Homo sapiens: one gene and its partners. The protein of the gene in region 1 interacts with the protein of each later gene in a pairwise test. Each region holds a gene or a part of one and is shown in the gene's direction. Other genes may lie near its edges. The genes, in order: PPL, ZNF474, ZSCAN1, COL17A1, KCTD21, SKIL and ZNF263.

Region 1 (3,500 bases):
GATGGTGCAGGTGACCGAGGACAGCCTCCAGCCTAGTAGAGAGGCCCTGGAGGAGACCCGCTGCCACCCTCCTGGCTGTGCGACCTCAGAGGAGCTGCTTGGCTTCTCTGAGCCTGTTTTCTCACCTGTGGGATGGGAATAAGCACGGTGCCTGCCTGGCGATGTTGGCTCAGGATTAAATGAAATAATGCAGGGGAAAGGTTGTGAATGATAAGCGGCCGCAGGTAATAGCATCTGTGACGATTACAGTTATTAAGCAAATGCGGGCAAGCTAGCTGTGGTGTACCCAGGGTTAAACTTGATATCATGGTGGACAGGCTGTGCACTGCACAATTCCATAGGCACTGTTGCTGGGTTTTAGCACGTGGTCGTGGAGGAGACGTGGACAACCTCCCTGCACTTGAGTCGCTGGCAGTCACATCACAGAGATAAGATGGAGTTAAGCTTCAGTACATGTATGGTTACATGAGCGTCGGACTGATGGGGCCAGGCAGGAGCAATGGAGCATAGAGCCGGACAGATGAGGTCTCCACCCTGGCCACTCACATACTTTGTGACAGGCCTCAAGTGAGAGTTGTCACAGTCAGAGCACAGATGCTGGGAGGTGAGGGAGGACTTCACAGAGGAGGCATCTGACCTGTCACGGGGTGGGATGGAGTGGCCAAGACCCAGCTCTGCAGTCAGGCTCAATTCTGCCTCTGCTTGAAAAGAAACATAGCATCCCTGAGCCCCAGCGCTTCTGAATTTGTTGAATGGGATTAATCTTGCCCCTCCACCCAGACCTGGGTCCCAGTAAACACCCAGCAGCCTGGCCTTGCCTAGACGGGTCTTGCAACACTGGGGCCGCCCTGATGGAGCGCTCCTGCATGGGAGGCAGGACCCCAGGCTTTGAGGGGAGAGCTGGCAAAAGGGAAGCATGCTCTACTGGGAGGCACCTGGGGTACCCTGAGCCTCTTAGTGGTTAAGAACACAGTGTTTTATTAGCTGGGCATGGGGGTGGGTGCCTGTAGTCCCAGCTACTCAGGAGGCTGAAGCAGGAGAATCCCTTGAACCTGGGAGGCAGAGGTTGCAGTGAGCTGAGATTGTGCTACTGCACTCCAGCCTGGGTAAAAGAGTGAGACTCTGTCTCAAAAAGAAAAAAAAAAAAGCAAGAACACAGTGTTTGATGCTAGCTGGGCATGAGTTCAGGCCGCAGCTCTGGGTCTCTTAAGCTGTTTGATCTTGGGCAAGTCACTTAATGTCTCCGAGCCTCAGTTTCTTCATCTATGAGGTGGGGTGACAACAGCAACCCCCAGTTGGTGAGGCTGCTGGGTAGATCAAATGAGGGGATGCACATGATGGGTCCAGCCCATGACCTGGTTCAGAGCGAGTGCCCGGCAAATCATAGCAGCCAATACTAGGAAGCACACACTGCTATTAAGAGTCATGACGGGCTGGGCGCGGTAGCTCACGCCTGTAATCCCAGCACTCTGAGAGGGTAAGGCGGACGGATCACTTGAGGTCAGGAGTTCAAGACCAGCCTGGCCAACATGGTGAAATCCCATCTCTACAAAAATAAATATTAAAAATTAGCTGGGTGTGGTGGCGGAAACCTGTAATCCCAGCCAGATACTGGGGAGGCTGAGGCAGGAGAATCACTTGAACCTGGGAGGCAGAGATTGCAGTGAGCCGAGATCACACCACTGCACTCCAGCCTGGGAGACAGAGCGAGACTCCGTCTCAAAAAAAAAAAAAAAAGATTCATGACTGAGCCAAGCCCAGAGCTGACCAGGGAGCTGACTCAAGCAGACACGCACATGCACCCATCGATCAGTGTTGGTAGGAACGCCTGATCGATATGGGAGGGGACCCATGTGGGTAACAGCTTAGAGAGAGCCGCCCCGCCATTTCTCAGGCACATACTGTGAGCCCAGCAAGGCCATGGATGTTACATCTCATTCTGACAGCGGGCCTGCCATGCAGGTGGAAGTGTCCTGTTTCACAGAGGGCTCACATTCACCTTGAGCTCACAGCTCACAAATGGCTGATGCTGGAAGTCCAGGGGGGCCTGGGGAAGCAAATGAGGCCTCCCCACTCGTACCTGGATCTGGCAGCAACTGTGCCTGGGGACTGCTCCAGGCCAAATGGTAGAGTCATTGGTGTTTGTGCTCACTGCCTCTACCCCCAGCAACCCCCTCTACCTCTCTTCTCTCTAGCTTTGCCCCTCCATCCCTTGCCCAGTTCTCTTGGAAGAAGGAATGAGACTGGATAAATTCGATTCAGGACAGAGCTGAGCTTACCTGGAGGAACAGCTGCTAATGGTAGCATTTCAGGCACTGTCGGGCGGATCATGTTGGGAAAGGGTATTTTGGGGGAGAGACTCAGCTCCGTCCACACCCTTTAAGCAATACCCTAAGGGTGTGGTTGGGGGAGGCCCTGGAAGTAGGGGACCTGGGGGAGAAGCTGCTTTAGAGAGCTTCCAAAGCTCCTCGTCTGGGGAAGAGAACCCTGGCTTCCCAGCGTGCAGCTGCTCTCTGCTCCCGGCAGGTCTGTGCCGGTGTTACCGGCACCACCTTGCATCCTCCCAGCCTGCCTGCCCCGGCCTGTCTTGGGAGCGAATGGGGAAACGGCCTCTGGTCTTTGTTCTCCCGGCTTCTGATGGGTTGCTGTGCTGCAGCCTCTGGAGCCCGGGAGGCCACCTGGTGCCCCTTTCTGCCTCCGGGTGGGACAAAGCTCTCTTCAGGTCCCAGCCCTGCCCTTCCCTACCCCAACCTATTTTTTTTAAGTGTTCTTTCTTTATTCTTTAGAGACAGGCTGTCACTGTATCACCCAGATTGGAGTGCAGTGGTGCGATCATAGCTCACTGTAGCCTTGAACTGCTGGGCTCAAGCAATCCTCATGCCTCAGCCTCCCAAGAAGCTGGGACTACAGGTGTGCACACCACCGTGCCCCGCTAATTTTTAATATTTGTAGAGATGGGGTCTCACTATATTGCCCACTCTGGTCCTGAACTCCTGGGCTCAAGTGAGCCTCTTGCCTTAGCCTCCCAAAGCACTGAGATTACAGCCATGAGCCACTGCACGCAGGCCCTTTCCCTTTAAATGGATCCCCACTTCTCCCTGCCTGCAGAGCCAGCAGCCCAGCAGGCCTCCAGTCCCTCTTCACTGTTCCTTCTTCCACTCCAGCGCTCCAGTCCCTTCTCCCCATGGCAGCCAGGGAGCTCCTTACGACATAAATCTGACCATACCTCCAGCTGCTTAACCCCTGCCCCAGACCTCTCTTTGCTCTTAGGCCCTGGGAGCTGGTGCCCTGCACATCAACATGTGCCTGTCACCGTCTTGTTTCCACGCTGTGCCCGGCCACAAGGCCTTTCCCTCTGCCATTCCTGTTGCCCAGAATGCCCCTCCCACCCCTTTTCACTGCTTCTCTTCCACTTCCAGGTTTACCTTCTGTTCCTCAGGGAAGCCTTCCCCAACCTCTCTGCTGGGGTAGATCCACCTATTCTATGGACTCCCCTTCTC
Region 2 (3,500 bases), on another chromosome or scaffold:
AAATCTGAAATTTGAAATAACATTATTAGGATGAATTGTGCTAATCACCAGTATTAAAATACAGATATCTCTCAATTAGTATTAGGTTTCCATGTGAATAACAGACTCTTAAAAATGGCTAAAATAAAAATAAAAATTTACTTTTCTTATGTAAATAAAGTCCAAGAAAGGCACTCCAGGGCTTCTATGATGGTTCCAGCATTACCAGGGACCCAAGTCCATCCAGGCCTCTGCTCTGTCATATCAAGTGTTACATAAATGAAATCTGTTCTCAACTGGCTGCTAAAGCGCCAGTCATCACATCCATCTTCGAAGCATCAGTAAGAAGGAAAGGAAGAGAAGCAATTGTTCTCTTCTTCCTTTTCAAGAATTGTTCTTACAAGTTCCACACAATATTTTCACTAACTACAAAGGAGCTTGTAGATGTGCCCAGCTGAAAGTTGGGGCTCTATTAATTGAGGGAGTTGAGTGGAATGGCTATTGGTAAGGAACTAACTGTCTCTGCCGGACATTAGAAGGGACATTATCTCATCAATTATAAGCCTTGGTGTAAATGAGTCCATCAGTTCCTTTTTGAAAGCAAGATTTCATAGGTAAGACGGACTGGTGAGCATACAAGAATACTAGGCTGGAGAGTGGAGGCTGCTGAATGGGGTGGGTGAACAACATTGAAGATGAACCTCCTCTATTTTAGAATCTTGATCAGAGCCACCATCAGCCCCAACTCCATCTTTCTTGTTTATGTTTTTGTTCATTTAAAGAATTTGAATTCAATACTAATAGAGAAGGGATCATATCATGTATCAACTATATTTCTTTTGTTTCAAAGGGCTAGATTTTTTTATATACTTTAAGTTCTAGGGTAAATGTGCACAACGTGCAGTTTCGATACATAGGTATACATGTGCCATGTTGGTTTGCTCCACCCATTAAATCATCACTTACATTAGGTATTTCTCCTAATGCTATCCCTCCCCCATCCCCCCACCCCACAACAGGCCCCCATGTGTGATGTTCCCCGTGCTGTGTCCAAGTGTTCTCATTGTTCAGTTCCCACTTATGAGTGTGAACATGAGGTGTTCGGCTTTCTGTCCTTGTGACAGTCTGCTCAGAATGATGGTTTCCAGCTTTATCCATGTCCCTGCAAAGGACATGAACTCATCCTCAAAGGACTAGATTATTTTTTAAAAGATATGATCACACTTTTCATTGTGTTCTGTTCCCTCTCTTTTAGAGAGACACCTTCTAATGCCAAGATGGTTTTTGGATTTCCACGGTTATTACATTCTTCTTTGTGTGTTTGTCTCTCCCTTCCCATGAACCCTGAAGAGAATGGAAAAATGGCATCATGTTGATAAAAGGTGATGCCTTCCAGGACATTCTGTAAATGTCCTATGTGCAGATATGGTCAAAACGAATAATTCAGGCCAACTGAGTGAACATTTCTCCAGAGATGCTTGAGGTAAAACTGTCTGGCTTTGCAAAGTGGTTCTCTTTATAAACTAGCAACATTGCTTTATGACGTTTTGGGTGACAGGCCAATTTCTTATGTGATTTAAGTATATGCATTTAGTATTTTCCAGCACTTTTGCTTTTAGAGCTAACTTATAAAGGGAGAGCAACCAACACTGCTGTGCCATGGCATGTTGCCTTTGCACAGTCACTGGCAGAAACATTACGCATTTCTCCATAAGACACCTCCGTTCCCAAAAATTTCACTGGCTTCCAGCTACCTCATCTTTCATATTTTGATACCTTTAGTCACAATAAGGGAAAAATTTCAGGAGAACATTGGAGAAGGAAAGGGATGGTAGAAAAAGAAAAGTTGAAGATTCAAATGGACGTTTTGTGATGTTTCATCGTGTTTGCTGCAGAGAAAATATTTGCAGTGCACAAATGTTTGTGTGCGGTAAGATCTATCCCTAATCAAATGGTGACATGGCTTCAAACTGAGCACTACCTGGCCTCTTGGGGCAGCCTTCACTTTTACCCTGTGCCCATGATCAAGACAGACAAAACACATCATTCATCGTTGGTCTGCCCCATTCCCCCAACTGGTCCCTACCTCTGCTGGTTATGTAGATTTTTCTGAAGATATTGGTGAAATTAAGAAAAGAATCTGTACTGCACATCACTCAGGAAAAACTACATCTAGAAAACAACTGTATATGGCAAAAGTGATTCTTTTTTTTCTTTTTTTTTTCTTTTGAGATGGAGTTTCACTCTTGTCAGCTAGGCTGGAGTGCAATGGCGCGATCTTGGCTCTCTGCAAACTCTGCCTCCCGGATTCAAGCGATTCTCCTGTCTCAGCCTCCTGAGTAGCTGGGATTACAGCCACCATACCCAACTAATTTTTGTATTTCTAGTAGAGACGGGGATTCACCATGCTGGCCAGGCTGGTCTCAAACTCCAGACCTCAGGTGATCCGCCCACCTCGGCCTCCCAAAGTGCTGGGATTACAGGCATGAACCACCGCGCCCGGCCTGGAAAAAGTGATTCTTAATGCAGAAACAGAAAACCAAATACCACACGTTCTCACTTATAAGTGGGAGCTAAACGTCAAGTACACGTGGGCATAAAGATGAGAACAACAGATAGTGAATGCAAGCGGAGGAAGGGCTGAAAAACTACCTATTAGGTACTATGCTTACTACCTGGGAGACAGATTCATGTGTACTCCAAACCTCAGCATTACACAATATGCCCATATACCAAACCTGCACATGTACCCCGAACCTATAATAAAAGTTGAAGAAAAAAAGTCCCCTGTCACTTAACATTGAAAACATTGTGTTCCATAGCCCCAGTCTCTCTCTTCTGCTTTGTCCCTCTCAGAGGCTTCTCCTCTGTGCCTTGTCTGCACTCCTCCTTCTTGCCTCTTCTTTCTTCTAAAAGGAAGCATAACAGCTGGTGAGAGCTTAGTTACCTTCCCCTGAGGCATATGGATAATACATTAAAACAGGGATAAAAACTAAAGGGAAGAAGCTCTGCTGGAGGAATTTAGGCAGAATGAATAATGGAAAGAGCCACGTATTGGAGCCAAAGAGAGCTGGAATTGATTCACAGTTCTGTCATTTAGAAACTGACAGTCTTGGGCAAATTACTTGTCTTTTCTGAGTCAGTTTCTTTACTTATAAAGTTGAAATAATAATACCTGCTTCATAATCATTTGAGAATTAACTAAAATTATGTTTACAAAAAATCTGTGCCCTATCTGGCATATAATTGGCATTCAGTAAATATTACCTCTCTTGCCTTATCAAAAGGGAGATGGAGGGGTTGCTGGGGAAAGTCATGGGGATTTCTCAGTATTCTAATCTGCTGGAAACAGAATTGACTCTGTGTGTGTGTGTGTGTGTGTGTGTGTGCGCGCGTGAGAGAGAGAGAGAGAGAGAGGGAGGGAGAAAGAGACAGAGAGAGAGAAAGAGAGGCAGAGACAATTTAGGGGAAGGAGGCTTATTTGATTGCATTGATTTTTCTAATCTGTCTTCTTAAGTCAT
Region 3 (3,500 bases), on another chromosome or scaffold:
CTTTTCAGAGTCTCCAGTCTCCCTTGCCCTCTTCCTGGTCTCCACCCCCAGCTTGGACCTGGTAGGAAAGTCAGGAAGACAGCAAAGATAACACCATGGGTAGACCTGCTGCTGGTGGTGGTGTCATCCATTATTATGTAGCCCACCTGGCTGCTTCCATTTAAATGGAATTTAAATTTAAAATTCAGTTCCTATTTCAGGTGCTCCTAGCCACACGTAGGTGGTTGCATGGGTAGAGAATCTTTACATCCCTGTAGGAACTTCACTGGGCAGTGCTGGCCACACCACGGGGCAGGCATTCTTGTTCCCGCAGCTCGTCAGTCAATGTGTGTTGAATGACTAAATGAGAGGGAGATAGACACTAAGTAAGGGGAAAAGTTGTGTTCAGAAAGTCATGGAGGTTATGAAGACAGTGCCATAAGGATGATGGCCAGGACATCTGCGAGGGGAGGAGCTGGGGTGGGAAGGGGAGGGGCTGGGGTGGGATGGCAGGTGCAAAGGTCCTGGGGCAGCCAGTGGCTTGAACTCAGTGCAAAGTAGCCTGTGAGAGGCATGTGGAAGATTAGGTCAGAAGGTGGGAAGAGGTCAGGTTGGTTCCTTGGGGTGCTGGAGGTCAGAACAAGGAAGTAAGGAGCCGAGGGGCATCCTGAGTACAGAGGGCCACCATCTGATGTGACCCCTCTGTCCCTGCCCCTCTCTGCAGGCCCCTGATTGCTGATTCTGTCCGCCTGCCACACCGGCTCTGTCCGGAGCCACTGGGACTCGGGATCCAGTCCACACACACCCCTCAGAGGGGCACTGTGGCCAGAGAAATGCTTCCACGGCCCAAAGCCCCTGCCTCCCCCAGACGCCCCCAGACCCCAACCCCGAGTGAGCAGGACGCAGACCCTGGGCCAGCAAGCCCCAGGGACACCGAAGCCCAGCGTCTGCGCTTCCGGCAGTTCCAGTACCACGTGGCGAGCGGGCCGCACCTCGCGCTGGGCCAGCTCTGGACGCTGTGCCGCCAGTGGCTGAGGCCCGAGGCGCGCTCCAAGGAGCAGATGCTGGAGCTGCTGGTGCTGGAGCAGTTCCTGGGCGCGCTGCCCAGCAAGATGCGGACCTGGGTGCAGTCACAGGGCCCCCGAAGCTGCAGGGAGGCCGCCAGCCTGGTGGAGGACCTCACACAGATGTGCCAGCAGGAAGGTGAGAGGCGCAGGCTTCCTGCCCCGGGCCGGGCCAGGGGGCCTGACGTCTCCGAGGACCGAACTGCCCTCCTTCCCGCCCACATCGCTCCCACCCCTGCCCGGCCCCTCCCGACCAGCAAACCTCTCCTGCCCCGCGGCTGTGTTTTTAATTATTTTTACATATAAATGTGCTGCACGCCTCATCTGCCTCGAATTTCTCACTCAGTCGGTGATTAAAGATCCCTCCATTTCCCATGCGTCCATCTGTCCTGTGGCTTTGTGTCTGCTGCTCCTCACGGCTGCTCTCTGGGAAGGACGCTGCCTCGCCACTTCCTCCCAGCCACCTGCAGCGCCTCCTGCAACACTCAGGAATCCTAGAGATCCTTAAGCCTTCACAGGGCGCAGGCCCCATCGCTGGCTGATGGTGGGGAGAGACGCTTAGGTCTGCATCCCGACTCTGGGAGCTGGGAAATTTGGGGTTGAAACTGGGCTCCCTCCCTGTCTCCTCTCTCAGCTCCCCTCTCCCCTGACAGGGCTTTGTCCTTCTGCATCTTTGCCCCTGTGACCCCACGTCGAGATTCCATCCACCCAGGGCCCAGTCCCATGAGTGGGGCTCTTTCTTTCCTAGTGACAAAAGTGCAGGGATTGGACACTGGGAGGCCAAAAGAGGCAGCCACGGATGGTGAGAGCAGTCGTGGCACTGTGGCCTCGGGAGGGCTTCCCCAGCAGGGCCCCAGCAAGGAGGGTGCCAGGCAGCCACGCTGCAGGAGCAAAGGCTGGGAGTGAGAAGGGTTGCATCAGAGCTCACAGAAAAGAGGGGTGGAGCAAGGGAGAGGAACAGGCCCTCCCTTTGCACCCTCCCACTACAGCATTTCCGTAGACCAACAGTGATAAGCAGTTTGCAGAACACAGGGTCCAGGGTCCCCTTACTGCCCCAGGGCAGCCGGTGCCACACTTAGGAAAGCTGTGACAGCTGAGCTTTCCAGAGGCTCAAGGGTAGCCCTGTAAGCTGCAAGGCAGAAGCCAGATGAATTGGCCCTTTGAACTCTCTGATCCTGGGGTAGAGGGCCCAAGAGCACTGGCTTCTGGCGCTCTGTGGACCTCACAGCCATCCCAGCCCAGAGCCACCCTTGCTAGTTTTAATGTTCCATGGTCACTCTCAAAATTCAACGTTTTTGAGCAAAGGGCTCTCTATCTGTCTTCCATAGCGGTGGTCTGCTTTCTACATTCCATATTTTGAGCCTATGAAACAGTAGAGCAAGTATAATGAACAGCCCTGCACCGGCCACCCACCCTTATCAAAGCCCAACCTAGGAAATGCTTTGTAATCTCAGCACTTTGGGAGGCCAAGGCAGGCGGATCACAAGGCAGGAGTTCGAGACTAGCCTGGCCAACATGGTGAAACTCCGTCTCTACTAAAAATACAAAAATTAGCCGGGCGTGGTGGCGCGTGCCTATATTATATCCCAGCTACTCAGGAAGCTGAGGCAGGAGAATCGCTTGAACCCAGGAGGCGGAGCTTGCAGTGAGCCAAGATCACGCCACTGCACTGCAGCCTGGGCGACAGAGCGAGACTCCGTCTCAAAAAAAAAAAAAAAAAAAAAAGGAACAACCAGTGGAATCAGCTGAACCCCCATGCACGTCTCCTAGTCCTGTTGTCCCCCGCTCTGCCTGACACCCCAGAGGTGGCCGTGATCTTGAATTTTTCTTTTTTTAATTAAAAAATAAATAGGGGGGGGTCTTGCTGTGTTGCCCAGGCTGCTCTCAAACTCTTGGGCTCAAGCAGTCCTCCTGCCTCAGCCTCCCAAAGTGCTGGGATTACTGGTGTGAGCCACCACGCCTGGCCTGGTTCCCACGTCTTGACCCTTCTGTCAATGGTGTCCTGAACCCTGCTTCAGCAGTCGTCCTCTGTGCACTCTGTGCACACAGCCCCGGGGGGCTTGGGGAGCAGAGGGCTCACAGTGCTCGGGCCTCCCTAGTTAGTCAGTGCTGCAGTGTGTGTCCTCGTGGGCTTCTGGAGGCGCACAGGGGTGTGGAGTATGAGTGAAGAGGGTACTTGTCTTCAGCGGCCCTCGGTGTCACCACAGGTTCCTGCCCAGCAGCCACATGGAGGGACAGAATGACAGCCCTGCAGCCACTCTTGCCTGCGCCTCAGGGGTGCTGCAGGGATGTTCGGGGAAAGTCTGCCCTCCCCAGAAGGCCTGGAGAATTGGGGGCTCTGGGAAGAACAGGCCCCTCTCACGATCCCTTTCTCCCGCACAGTTCTGGTATCTCTGGACTCGGTCGAACCCCAGGACTGGAGTTTCGGTGAGGAGGAAGATGGGAAGAGTCCAAGGT
Region 4 (3,500 bases), on another chromosome or scaffold:
CAAGCCATGTCTTCATGGATGTAATTATCGCAAATATCAGATTAGTGAGGACTGAGATGCTGGATGTTCCTGCACGTCGTTGAAAGCAAGTTTATTAAGAAAGTAAAGGAATAAAAAAATGGCTACTCCATAGGCAGAGCAGCTAGCTCCTCCAGTTTAAAAGCTCAGGTCAATCTGTTTGTCCTTTCAGGAGACCTGAAGACTGTGTCCACAAAGGGCAAGACCACCACTGCAGGTGGGTGAGAACCGCGAACCCTGCAGTGACAGGATCCAGTGGGGCTGCTTATGGCTAATGGACCAGATGATGGTCCCTCGCCTGGAAGCAGTGCAGTGCACAGAAGCCACCAGACTCTAAAGAGTTTCCCTAAAGGCTCAGAAGGGAGCAGGGTGGGGGTCAGGGGAGTGGCAGGCTGTGGGTCAGAGGTGGCCGCAGAAGGAGCTTAGCTCAGGGGATGAAGCTAACAGGCCCCCCGCCCCCAGCTGCCCCTAATTAACACTTGTTAGTTAGGTTGTCTCCTAACACAACAGGGTGACTGTGTCTTTACACAGCAGCTCAAGAAGAGACTAAGCCATGCACGCCTCCAGCCCCTTAGCCTTTCCTCATTTCCTTCCACCGCCGTGTGATAGAAGCAGGTCAAGTCCTACCACCCCATTTTAGGGAACTAAAAACACTTTTCATTACAAAAAACATTGTTTTAATTCACTAGGCACCCCTGAAGAGCTGAGTATAATTCTAGGCACTGTAAGGATTAAAGAAAGCACTGTGTGAACTGAGGCATGGAGATGGGAACGCTCTAGGTTTGGGCCCAGTCAGATGCAGACCAATGCTATATTCAAAATAAAGATGTTTAAGCCTCGTGCTGTGCTGCTAACTCCTCTACTATTTTACATTCCTTGTCCTATTTCATTCAACAACCTTCCCAAGAAGGAGGCAATCTTTTAACCCCATGTTATAAAAACGGAAACAAAGGTGAAGTGACCTTCTCAGGTTCACACAGCTGGAGCCAGGATTGCCAGACTTCTGGTCAGCACCAGTCAGGCCCTGTGCTCAGTCCAGGAGCCAGCCCTGTCCTGGGTGGAACAGCACAGGAACTTGAAAGCCCCCAGTCGTAGTCACTCAGGCCAGAAAGTCACCAAAAGTCAGAGAATCTGGAGGGAAAAGGCAGGAGCTGCCTGCATTTGCTTCATTTTCCCTGTCTCTTTCACAGATATCCACAGCTACGGCAGCAGTGGTGGTGGTGGCAGTGGAGGAGGTGGCGGTGTTGGTGGCGCTGGCGGCGGCCCTTGGGGACCAGCGCCAGCCTGGTGCCCCTGCGGCTCCTGCTGCAGCTGGTGGAAGTGGCTGCTGGGCCTGCTGCTCACCTGGCTGCTACTCCTGGGGCTGCTCTTCGGCCTCATTGCTCTGGGTACGTGGCAAAGGCAGCAGGGCAGCCTGTGTGGTAGGAGGCAGGCCAGCCCCACTGCCTGTCAGAAGGGCAGGAATCTGTGAATGGGCCCACGTGTTAGGGGGCGAGGGGACCTGAATGCATTGGTGCAGACCCTTGTTACCGCAGATGAGTAAACTGAGGCCCCAGGAGGTACCTGGCCAAGGACATGCTGCCACTTAGTGGTGGAGCTGAATTTGGATGCAGCGCCTGATGCTCAGCCCCACCCTTGCTACACCTGTAGGCCCTGGTCTAAGCACCTGGCTGCCCTTGGTAACAAGGTCAGGACTTTCTTAGCCTTTTTGACTTTTGCTGTTTCCAAGCAGCCATATCTATTTCTTTTCTTTCTTTTCTTTTTCTTTCTTTTTTTTTTTTGAGACGGCGTCTCGTTCTGTCGCCCAGGCTGGAGTGCAGTGGTGCAATCTCGGCTCACTGCAACCTCCGCCTCCTGAGTTCAAGCGATTCTCCTGCCTCAGCCTCCTGAGTAGCTGGGACTACAGGCGCATGTCACCACACCTGGCTAATTTTTTGTATTTTTAGTAGAGATGGGGTTTCACTGTGTTAGCCAGGATGGTCTCGATTTCCTGACCCCGTGATCTGCCCCCCTTGGCCTCCCAAAGTGCTGGGATTACAGGCTTGAGCCACCGCGCCTGGCCAGCCATATCTATTTCTATCAGCTCTCACACCACCTCACAGGGAGAGTGAGGACAAGCTTTGTCACCCAGCTCAGATGAGAAGACTGACTCCCAGGCCAGGTTTCTTTAAGGCTCTGCTGTGATGCTGAGCAGCTAATCCTGCTGGTGGCCACGGCAGATTATCTCTGCATGAGTATTCTAGCATGAAGAAGCCACCACAGGCCCCAATCCCTTGTGTCAGGCTCTCCACTAGGAGCGAGTGTATGGAAGGCGAAGGACCGGGCCCTCAGTGACGCAGTGTGTGTCTGTTTGTTGCAGCGGAGGAGGTGAGGAAGCTGAAGGCGCGTGTGGATGAGCTGGAGAGGATCAGGAGGAGCATACTGCCCTATGGGGACAGCATGGATAGAATAGAAAAGGACCGCCTCCAGGGCATGGCACCCGCGGCGGGAGCAGACCTGGACAAAATTGGGCTGCACAGTGACAGCCAGGAGGAGCTCTGGATGTTCGTGAGGAAGAAGCTAATGATGGAACAGGAAAATGGTGAGAGCATCGCCGGGCACAGGGCCAGCTCCCCTGAGTCCCTTTCTTCTTTGCATCTATGTGGTATGTGTGCATGTGCTGTGAGCACCATCATCCGGCCCACTCTCGGCCTCTCTCCTCCCCTGATCCTCTCAATAGCGCTGAGAGGTAGGTGGGACCAAGACTGTGGTCCCACTTTACTCCTGGAAAAACTGAGTTCTGGAAAGAATAATTGCTCAAGATCACTGGACTAGCCAAATTTAGAATCTGATCTCTAGTCTTTGCCTCAGTTTCTTCTTCCCATACCATGATCCCCTTATTGTGTGTGTGTGTGTGTGTGTGTGTGTGTGTGTGTGTGACAGGAGATGTGAAGCTGACTCAGGATTTGCTTTTTCTTGCAGGAAATCTCCGAGGAAGCCCTGGCCCTAAAGGTATTGCCATGGATTGAACCTTGTCTCTGATTCATTTCCTGCAGTTGGAAGTGAGTTTTCTGGGTAGATTAGAAGCCTTTTTCTTTGTTCTAAATGGAAGGATGAAGAGCTGAATGATCTTATGGTATCTGTTGGGAGGTATCTGTTGGTTTTAGAGTCAGAATATCTTAGATAAGGCAGCATCTAAGAGAAGCCCAGCAATGAGCCCAAATGACATAGACTCTGGGACTGGGAGGGACTCGCCGCATGTCGCCTCACCTTGAAATACAGTTTACATCTTGTCAAATGGTTTTAAAATACAAGGCAGAGTATGGCCTTTGGGTTCTTGCCCCATCTCACAGTTTTCATATCTTTCTGGTTTCAGGTGACATGGGAAGTCCAGGCCCTAAAGGTAATTATAACATGGGCATTTTTACCTTAAATATTAGCAAGTGTTAATTGTTTCAAACAATCAGCAAGTGTCAGAAAACCCACCTTGCACTCCAAGAAGT
Region 5 (3,500 bases), on another chromosome or scaffold:
TCCAAGTGGAGGTGGCCAGGAGGCATCTGGGAACACATAGGGGACTGAGGCTCAGTGGTGTTAGTTCATTACTACCTGACTGCAAACCTCCGCCGACTCATGAAACTCCCCTCGTGTCATGTCATTTTGCCTTTTGTAGCAGGGCCGTGGATTTGTGATGATGGACACTGTGGCCCTGTGGCTAGAAAATAGGGGCTTAGACCAGGCACGGTGGCTCACGCCTGTAATCCCAGCACTTTGGGAGGCCGAGGCGGGCAGATCACAAAGTCAAGAGATCGAGACCATCCTGGCCAACATGGTGAAATCCCATCTCTACTAAAAATACAAAAATAAATTAGCCGGGCCTGGTGGCGTGCACCTGTAATTGCAGCTACCCGGGAGGCTGAGGCAGGAGTGTCGCTTGAATCTGGGAGGCAGAGGTTGCAGTGAGCTGAGATTGCGTCACTGCACTCTAGCCTGGCGACAGAGCGAGACTCCATCTCAAAAAAAAAAAAAGAAAAGAAGGGCTTAGAGGACTGAGCTCTGTGACTGGATAGGTAAGGGGAGATCACCACAGAGAGCACCCTAGACTCGGAGCAGGAGACCTGCCTGCTAGCCAGCCTCTGCCCTGACTGCCTGTGCAACTGTGCTGCTCTCCCCAGACAAATGACCGGGAGCCATGACGTCATCGGGGGCGCAGGAAAGCAGGTGCTCTGCTGCTTTTGCAAGCAGAGAAATAAGAGTTTGGGCACCTACCCAGGGGTCCCAGGGAATGCCCTGTGGCTCCTGACCTCCCCCGCCTGTAATGCTCTGAGCACTTCAGCAGTAATGCATGGAAGAGATAAGGGTCTGTGACCCATGGAACTGTCCAAGTCCTCTCTGACACCCGCTTCTTTTCCTGCCGTGAAGGTAAGCCACTTTATAGATCCTAGGCCTGAAACCCAATGTTGGGAGGGAGTGTTTGTTTTCAAGAAGAAAGAGAGACTGAAACTAGAACATGCACATTTCTATCCAGAAGAAAACAGTTGGAGTAGACTAGAGTCCTACAAAGAGGGCAACAGGGAAGAAGATTCTGGACTGAGTAAAGGGGACCCACTCCTGGGTCCACCTCCTGCCTGGGCCCTCTGGAGAGAGAATTGGCCAGATTCAGCCCTGAGTCACAGCACCCTCCCCAGTTGCTGCCTCACAGCCATCTCCACACCAGCAGCCATGCCCCCAGCGGCAGCTCGCCCACACCTCTGTGGGACCTCCCCACCGTCTCGCAGCCCATCTGCTCCAGGCTTCTACTGACGATTTCGTATTTCACATGGACTCATTTCTCCTCAGACACTCCAGATGGGGAATGCCTTTCTGCAATATCAAAGTGCCCCATTAGACTGGGGAGGAATCATGAGGGGACATACCCCTGCCCCTGCCACAGAGTCGAGCATGGCAGCTGAATATCTCTCACACTGGCATGGCCCCCATCCTCTGGAGAAAGGAGGCCTCAGTGCAGTCAGCCTCTTCAGGAGGCAGAAATGTTGAGAAGTTCTCGCCACCCCTGCTGGGTGACTTTGGGGAGGTGTCTCCTCAGACCTCTGTTTCTCCATCTGGACGGTAAGCATGCTTGAAAGGTTGGGTTTTTGTTTGTTTTTTGAGACCGGATCTCCCTCTGTCTGCCAGGCTGGAGTTCTGTGGCGTAATCACGGCTCACTGCAGCCTCAACCTCCCAGACTCAAGCGATCCTCCCACCTCAGCCTCCCAAGTAGTTGGGACTACAGGTGCTCGCCACCACACCCTGCTTTGTTGTTGTTGTTGTTGTTGTTGTTGTTGTTGTTGTAGAGACAGGATTTCGTCATGTTGGCCAGGCTGGCCTTGAACTCCTGAGCTCAAACGATCTGCCCACCTCGGCCTCCCAAAGTGCTGGAATTACAGGCATGAGCCACTGTGTCTGCCAGCCAGATAGTTTTTGATGTGCCAAGGTTCATTCCAGACCATCTCCCACATCTTCTACCTGTCTTGTCACTGTGCCTTTACTCTCTCATCTCCTCTACCAGCACAGGCTCTTCTGGGGGTAATACTGGGGCCAGTTCCTCTTGGCATCCCTACCTGCCATGTCAGGGAAGGATTGCTGAATCTGGTCCACAGGTTGGCTCTGGGGAAAGTATAGTGTTGGAAGCTGGAGCTGAGATCTCCTGTTTTCTAGAACATGTGGTGAAGGAGACTTGCCAGCCATAGATGCTGACAGCTGAGAGATTAGGGGGGCTTTGTTAAGGAGTGGATAGGGTGCCTTCAGGAGAGTGCTCTGACAGAGTCCTGCATTTGCACTGACCTTGCAGCCAGTTTCAGAGAAGCTTGGGGTGTTATGACAGCAAAGGACAGGCCACCAGGAGCCAAGAGCATCTTCATGGCAAGGCAAGTCAGCATGGGAGCAGTGAAAGTCTAGAAAGGATTGTCATTCACATGCACACGTATGTTTATTGCGGCACTATTCACAGTAGCAAAGACTTGGAACCAACCCAAATGTCCAACAATGATAGACTGGATTAAGAAAATGTGGCACATATACACCATGGAATACTATGCAGCCATAAAAAATGATGAGTTCATGTCCTTTGTAGGGACATGGATGAAATTGGAAATAATCATTCTCAGTAAAGACTACTGCAAGGACAAAAAACCAAACACCGCATGTTCTCACTCATAGGTGGGAATTGAACAATGAGAACACATGGACACAGGAAGGGGAACATCACACTCTGGGGACTGTTGTGGGGTAGGGGGAGGGGAGAGGGATAGCATTAGGAGATATACCTAATGCTAAATGACGAGTTAATGGGTGCAGCACACCAGCATGGCGCATGTATACATATGTAACTAACCTGCACATTGTGCACATGTACCCTAAAACTTTAATAATAATAAAATTTAAAAAAATTTAAAAAAAACAGGATTGTCATTTGCAGTCCGGACAGCTGAGTGACCCACTGTGGGCCTTGAAGATAGATGGAAATGACACTAATCATGGCCATTCATTGTCAAATCTTTGAGAGAGAATAATAATTAAATTCAGCAGTGTCACTGGTACAGAAGGAGGAGCACTGAGCCTGGAGTCATAAATCTCAAACCATTTGTTGAGTACTTAGAACCGATCTTTGGCTAGTAAGCATTTACACATTTTTCTTTCATATAAAAGGACCTGAGTTTGAATCCTGGCAAGGCACTTCACCTTTCTGAGCTTGAGGAATGAATCCTGGCACAGTTTTCCTCATCTGCACAACAGGAATGGATGATTATATTGTCTGTGTCAAAAGATGATACAACCTTTTTTTTTTTTTTTTTTTTGAGACAGAGTTTCACTCTTGTTGTCCAGGCTGGAGTGCAGTTGTTCAGTCCCGGCTCACTGCAACCTCCACCTCCTGAGTTCAAATGATTCTCCTGCCCCAGCCTCCTGAACAGCTGGGATTACAGGCACCCACCACCATGCCCAGCTAATTTTTGTATTTTTAGTAGAGATGGGGTTTCACCATGTTGGCCAGTCT
Region 6 (3,500 bases), on another chromosome or scaffold:
CCACCGCGCTTGGCCGTGTTAGTGTTCTTTGAAGCACAAAAGTTTTAAATGTTTATTACATCCAATTTATCTATTTTTTTCTTGTTTTAGGTATCATATCTAAGAAACTATTGCCTAATCCCAATTCCAAGAAATATTTATTTATGTATTTATTTATTTATTTATTTATTTTTGAGACAGAGTCTCACTCTGTTGCCCAGGCTGGAGTACAGTGGTGCCATCTCAGCTCACTGCAACCTCCACCTCCCGGGTTCAACCAATTTTTCTGTCTCAGCCTCCTGAGTAGCTGGGATTACAGGTGCGCGCCACCATGCCTGGCTAATTTTTTTTGTATTTTTAGTAGAGACAGAGTTTTACCATGTTGGTCAGGCTGGTGGTGAACTCCTGACCTCAGGTAATCCACCTGCCTCGGCCTCCCAAAGTGCTGGGATTATAGGCGTGAGCCACCACATCCAGCCAAGAAATTTATGTTTAAGGGTTGTAGCTCTTACATTTAGGTCTTTGATCAGTTTAGAGTTAATTTTTGTATACAGCATAAGGTCCAACCTTATTCTTTTGCATGTGGATATAGTTGTCCGTATGTTGAAAAGATTATTCTTTCCTTTTTTTTTTTTTTTGAGACGGAGTCTTGCTCTGTTGCCCAGGCTGGAGTGCAGTGGCGCTATCTCGGCTCACTGCAAGCTCCGCCTCCCAGGTTCACGCCATTCTTCTGCCTCAGCCTCCCGAGTAGCTGGGACTACAGGCGCCCGCCACCAAGCCTGGCAAATTTTTTGTATTTTTTAGTAGAGACAGGGTTTCACCATGTTAGCCAGGATGGTCTCAATCTCCTGACGTCGTGATCCGCCCTTCTCGGCCTCCCAAAGTGCTGGGATTACAGGCGTGAGCCACCGCGCCTGGCCAGAAAAGATTATTCTTTCCTGACTGAATTGCTTTGGCACCTTTGTCAACAACAATTGCCTTATAAAGTATGAGTTTTTTAAATTTCTGGACTCTGAATTCTGTTCTACTGATCTGTATGTCTATCTTTAAATCATGTCACACAGTCTTGATTTCTGTAGCTTTGTAGTAAGCTTTGAAATTGGGAATTGTGAGTCTTTCAACTTCGTTATTCTTTTTCAAGATTATTTTGCCTATTTTGGGTTTGTTGCATTTCCATATGGATTTTAGAAACTGCTTTTCAATTTCTGCAAAAAATCCAGTGGGGATTTTGATAGGGATTGCACTGATAAGTAGATCAATTTGGAGACTATTACTGTCTTAACAATATTAAGTCTTCCAATCCATGAATTTGGGATGTCTTTCCATGTATTTAGGTCTTAAATTTCTTTTAGTGATGTTTTGTAGTTTTCATTGTACTTGCACTGCTTTTGTTAAATTTATTCCTATTTTATTTGTTTTGGTCTAATTTATAAATGAAATGTTTTAAAAATTACATTTATGGATTGTTCTAGTGATTTTTTTAATGGAGTGATATTCATACTTTGTTACTTGATTTTTTTCTCTCCAAGATGCATCAATCTCAAATAATTCTACAAGTAAAAGGAAATCTGAGTCTGCCACTTGCAACTTAGTCAGAGACATAAACAAAGTGGGAATTGGCCTTGTTGCTGCCGCTTCATCTCCGCTTCTTGTGAAAGATGTCATTTGTGAGGATGATAAGGGAAAAATCATGGAAGAAGTAATGAGAACTTATTTAAAACAACAGGAAAAACTAAACTTGATTTTGCAAAAGAAGCAACAACTTCAGATGGTAAAATTGTTATCTAAATGATAGTCCATTATGAAAAGATACTTTTGTATATTGCTCTGTCGCCCAGGCTGGAGTGCAGTGGCGCAGTCTCAGCTCACTGAAACCTCCACCTCACAGGTTCAAGCAATTCTTCTGCCTTAGCCTTCCGAGTAGCTAGCATTACAGGCACGTGCCACCATGCCTGGCTAAATTTTGTATTCTTAGTAGAGATGGGGTTTCTCCATGCTGGCCAGGCTCGAACTTTTGACCTTGTGATCCACCAGCCTTGGCCTCCCAAAGTGCTGGGATTACAGGTGTGAGCCACTGCGCCCAGCCCCCCTGTATATTCTTAGTAAGAAAAGTCAAAACGAGATGCTACAAATGTACTTAAGATTATTGTTTTACACTGAAAAGCAATTTTAATATATTTTAAAATTTTTTGAGAAAATAGTTTTTTAAAATAATTACCTCTATATAGAACTGATAATGATAGCTGAATTTTAGGTATTTTCTGTGCTATGTTTTCCAGAACTGAAAATTTTAACATGGTGAAAATAAAGTAAAACTTGTATTGTGATTCTTTACATTACAGGAAGTAAAAATGTTGAGTAGTTCAAAATCTATGAAGGAACTCACTGAAGAACAGCAGAATTTACAGAAAGAGCTTGAATCTTTGCAGAATGAACATGCTCAAAGAATGGAAGAATTTTATGTTGAACAGAAAGACTTAGAGAAAAAATTGGAGCAGATAATGAAGCAAAAATGTACCTGTGACTCAAATTTAGAAAAAGACAAAGAGGCTGAATATGCAGGACAGGTAAGAATTACTGTTTGTATAATGGTGCCCTTTCAGCATGGAAATGGAAACTGTTACTTCTCTCTTTTTTTTTTTTGAGACAGAGACTGCTCTGTCGCCCAGGCTGGAGTGCAGTGGCACAATCTCAGCTCCCCACAACCTCTGCCTCCCGGGTTCAAGCAATTTTCCTGCCTCAGCCTCCTGATTGTAGCTGGGATTACAGGCGTGCGACACTATGCCCAGCTAAATTTTGTATTTTTTAGTAGAGACGGGGTTTCACCATGTTGGTCAGTCTGGTCTTGAACTCCTGACCTCATGATCTGCCCACCTCAGCCTCCCAAAATGCTGGGATTACAAGCATGAGCCACTGCACCCGGCCACCGTTACTTCTCTAATAAAGGAATTACTTTTTGTCAAGCTCAGTTTACTAAGCTAGATTTCAAAATAGATAATTCTGTTAAACATAGCTTTATGCTGTATTGTCCAAGATGATTATTTTGATGTTTGTTGCTTTTATTAGTTTAAATTTTTATCGGGTTACTGCAGTTTAGTTACCTAAATTGCTAATCTCTAGCCCTCTGAATATTATATGTTATATTATTTTAATGTAGTATATGAGCTTTCAAATCTACAAATTAACAAACAGGAACTGTTGCCTGTTATGTTCAAAAGCACTGGAGCAAAAATAAGCAATTCTCTTTTGTTAATAGAATCTCACAATTTAAGGAACATGAACAAATAACTAACATGAGCAGGCTGTGATGAGCGGTATAGTAAAGTATAGGGCATAATGAACATGAACATGCTGGATGTGTTCCTTCCTCTTGTTCCTTTGCTTTTTCTTAAATTTAGTGTCCTGTCAGATGTCAGATTAATAGTATTAGATGCTTAATGGATTTAGTATACATGAAATAGTTCGTTTTGTAAAAAGTAATTTGAAAATAGATATTTTCTATGATATGAGGATTAAATGGA
Region 7 (2,735 bases), 1.6 Mb from region 1:
AATTTTCAGATGCTTATTCTTATGAGCTCGCCAGTGTTTCCTGTGTTCCGTTAGTGTTTCTAGGCTCGTCCCCAAAGACAAAAATTTCAGGGGTAGTAGGATCAACATTCCAGCCTATCATCTCTCACAGCCCATAAAAATTCAGAAAGTGGGGAGGGTCTTGTGGAAATTTGGAAACAATGTATAGCTCCAAAGTAGGCCATATCATAAATTAAGATTTACCTATGTCTTGTACTGTACTCAGAGTTTTAAAATTATGCCTACGGAATATGACAGACTGACATATAGTTGGATTTAGGTGGAGGATATGCTTGTATTTATTGTACAATTCCCTCAACTTTTCTGTATGTATGAGAATTCTTTTAATAAAAAGTTGGGGAAGTCTTAACATAAAACAAGACTGTGTGTACATTATGATTATACCTATGTTGAAACACACCAGTAGAAAGACTCACTGGTGTGGTGGTGGTAGTCCCAGTTACTCAGGAGGCTGAGGGGAGAATCACCTGAGCCCAGTAGGTCAAGGCTGCAGTGAGCTATGATGATGCCACTGCACCTCAACCAGGTGACAGAGTGAGACTCTGTTTCAAAACAAACAAGACACACCGCACATTGTTTCCATATATCAGGTTTGCCTAAAAAGTATCACAACTGTACATTTGTTGACACTAATTCTGCAAACGCAATCTTGCTCACTGCAACCTCTGCCTCCCGGGTTCAAGTGATTCTCCTGCCTCAGCCTCCAGAGTAGCTGGGATTACAGGCATGCGCCACCACACCCGGCTAATTTTTTGTATTTTTAGTAGAGACAGGATTTCTCCATGTAGGTCAGGCTCATCTTGAATTCCCGACCTCAGGTGATCCACCCGCCTCCCAAAGTGCTGGAATTACAGGTGTGAGCCACCACACCCGGCCTTTTTTTTTTTTTTTTTTTTTTTTGAAGTGAGTCTCACTCTGTTGCCCAGGCTGCTCTGGAACTTCTGGGCTCAAGCAGTCTTCCTGCCTTAGTCAGGAAGTGTGCCACTGTACCAGTTTCCATATTACTTTTCACTGCTGTGATGTCCAAAGTTGAACATGGCCCTTTTAGTGAGAGATGCTAAATAGGAAAAGATCAGATTACAGCTTGTTGGAATTAAACTTCTGTTGGAGTCCATGTTTGCTGGAGGTGGAGGTTTTTGTTTTTCTTTTTGGCACAGCATAGAAATGGCACTTGTGGGTTTTAATCTCATGGTCCTCTTAGAGCCCTGGGTCCTTTTCTGATTGTCTATTATGTTATATTTTCTTTCCCTGGAGTTGTCCGGTCAAATTTAGTTCTATTTTGTATTTATATGTAGAGACAAGGCCCTTTTATGATATTAAATGGATTATTCAAGGAACTGACCATGTTCATTTTATAGTTATTTCAATTACAGTAGTGTACATTCTCATTGCAAAAAAAAACATTCCAAGTACCATGAATATTTAAAAAAAAAAAAAATTGGCCGGGCGCAGTGGCTCACACCTGTAATCCCAGCACTTTGGGAGGCCGAGGCAGGCAGATCACTTGAAGTCAGGAGTTCGAGACCAGCCTGGCCAACATGGTGAAACTCCATCTCTACTAAAAATACAAAAATTAGCCGGGTGTGGTGGTGCACGCCTGTAATCCCAGCTACTTGGGAGGCTGAGGCAGGAGAATCGCTTGAACCTAGGAGGCAGAGGTTGCAGTGAGCGGAGATCGTGCCACTGCACTCCAGCCTGGGCGACAGAGTGAGACTCTGTCTCAAAAAAAAAAAAAAAGTCTCCCTCCCCTAATTTCTTTCTCTAGAGGTATCCACTGGGAACAGTTTGTGTATATTCCAAGTAACTGCTGTCAGATTTATGGAGCATTCTGTATTTATCCACTGAGGGCAGGGAACAAGACTGTTTCCCTACCCTGGTAGAGGAAAGTGGCAGTACAGAAATCTGTTTCTTTCATTGTGAACAGAGTCTCACATTCCCAGTCAGGAGGTCCCAGGCACCCAGGTGGGACAAGGAGGAAAGCTATGGGATCCCAGTGTCCAGAGCTGCAAGGAGGGCCTGAGCCCCAGAGGCCCAGCTCCAGGTAAGGAATGAAGACAAGTGGCCTGCGCAGCAAGCAGCAAGGCTCTTGCAGTTAAGAGTGAGGCATTTTTTGGTTTTGTTTTGTTTTGTTTTGAGATGGAGTGGCACTCTTGTTGCCCAGGCTGGAGTGCAACAGTGCGATCTCGGCTCACTGCAAGCTCCGCCTCCCAGGTTCAAGCGGTTCTCCTGCCTCAGCCTCCCGAGTAGCTGGGATTACAGGCATGCGCCACCACGCCCAGCTAATTTTTTGTATTTTTAGTAGAGTCGGGGTTTCTCCATATTGGTCAGGCTGGTCTCCCTGACCTCAGGTGATCCACCCACCTCGGCCTCCCAAAGTGCTGGGATTTACAAGTGTGAGCCACCGCCCCCAGCAGAGTAAGGCATTTGAGGATTTGGGTGCAGGGCCGGCCCAGCACAGCTGCTAGAGAGGTACATTACGTCCTTTGACCCTGCCATTCTCCATCCCAGTGAGGCAAGTGAGGAACCCAGGGTGCAGAGTTCAAGGAGGCCCTTATTCTTGAGCTTACTTGTCCCACCCTACTCTCAGCCCTGCTCCATCCCACCCATTCCTGAAGGGCAGAATCGAGAGGCTCAGGTGGAAAGGAAAATTCTAAGACTGGTCTCGGCTCTGATTCCTTGACCAGTGGCCCGACCCT

Evidence for each region.
Region 2: the proteins of PPL (region 1) and ZNF474 interact in binary tests that used the Homo sapiens proteins (3 or more experiments, as listed by UniProt).
Region 3: the proteins of PPL (region 1) and ZSCAN1 interact in binary tests that used the Homo sapiens proteins (3 or more experiments, as listed by UniProt).
Region 4: the proteins of PPL (region 1) and COL17A1 interact in a two-hybrid assay, tested with the Homo sapiens proteins (one study listed by BioGRID).
Region 5: the proteins of PPL (region 1) and KCTD21 interact in binary tests that used the Homo sapiens proteins (3 or more experiments, as listed by UniProt).
Region 6: the proteins of PPL (region 1) and SKIL interact in a two-hybrid assay, tested with the Homo sapiens proteins (one large-scale study listed by BioGRID and IntAct).
Region 7: the proteins of PPL (region 1) and ZNF263 interact in binary tests that used the Homo sapiens proteins (3 or more experiments, as listed by UniProt).

The regions. Positions count from the first base shown.
Region 1 is NC_000016.10:4,930,649-4,934,148, reverse strand, and holds part of PPL (periplakin), read left to right. Parts: intron 1-3,500. UniProt on the Homo sapiens protein: Component of the cornified envelope of keratinocytes. May link the cornified envelope to desmosomes and intermediate filaments. May act as a localization signal in PKB/AKT-mediated signaling.
Region 2 is NC_000005.10:122,146,546-122,150,045, forward strand, and holds part of ZNF474 (zinc finger protein 474), read left to right. Parts: intron 1-2,778; exon of another isoform or gene 2,779-3,500.
Region 3 is NC_000019.10:58,037,025-58,040,524, forward strand, and holds part of ZSCAN1 (zinc finger and SCAN domain-containing protein 1), read left to right. Parts: intron 1-703; coding exon of another isoform or gene 704-812; coding exon 813-1,182; intron 1,183-3,425; coding exon 3,426-3,500. UniProt on the Homo sapiens protein: May be involved in transcriptional regulation.
Region 4 is NC_000010.11:104,054,881-104,058,380, reverse strand, and holds part of COL17A1 (collagen alpha-1(XVII) chain), read left to right. Parts: intron 1-190; coding exon 191-235; intron 236-1,208; coding exon 1,209-1,406; intron 1,407-2,377; coding exon 2,378-2,599; intron 2,600-2,979; coding exon 2,980-3,009; intron 3,010-3,373; coding exon 3,374-3,400; intron 3,401-3,500. UniProt on the Homo sapiens protein: May play a role in the integrity of hemidesmosome and the attachment of basal keratinocytes to the underlying basement membrane. The 120 kDa linear IgA disease antigen is an anchoring filament component involved in dermal-epidermal cohesion.
Region 5 is NC_000011.10:78,175,127-78,178,626, reverse strand, and holds part of KCTD21 (BTB/POZ domain-containing protein KCTD21), read left to right. Parts: intron 1-641; exon of another isoform or gene 642-1,496; coding exon of another isoform or gene 1,497-1,575; intron 1,576-3,500. UniProt on the Homo sapiens protein: Probable substrate-specific adapter of a BCR (BTB-CUL3-RBX1) E3 ubiquitin-protein ligase complex mediating the ubiquitination and subsequent proteasomal degradation of target proteins. Promotes the ubiquitination of HDAC1.
Region 6 is NC_000003.12:170,388,715-170,392,214, forward strand, and holds part of SKIL (ski-like protein), read left to right. Parts: intron 1-1,508; coding exon 1,509-1,750; intron 1,751-2,321; coding exon 2,322-2,546; intron 2,547-3,500. UniProt on the Homo sapiens protein: May have regulatory role in cell division or differentiation in response to extracellular signals.
Region 7 is NC_000016.10:3,286,491-3,289,225, forward strand, and holds part of ZNF263 (zinc finger protein 263), read left to right. Parts: intron 1-1,963; coding exon 1,964-2,080; intron 2,081-2,735. UniProt on the Homo sapiens protein: Transcription factor that binds to the consensus sequence 5'-TCCTCCC-3' and acts as a transcriptional repressor.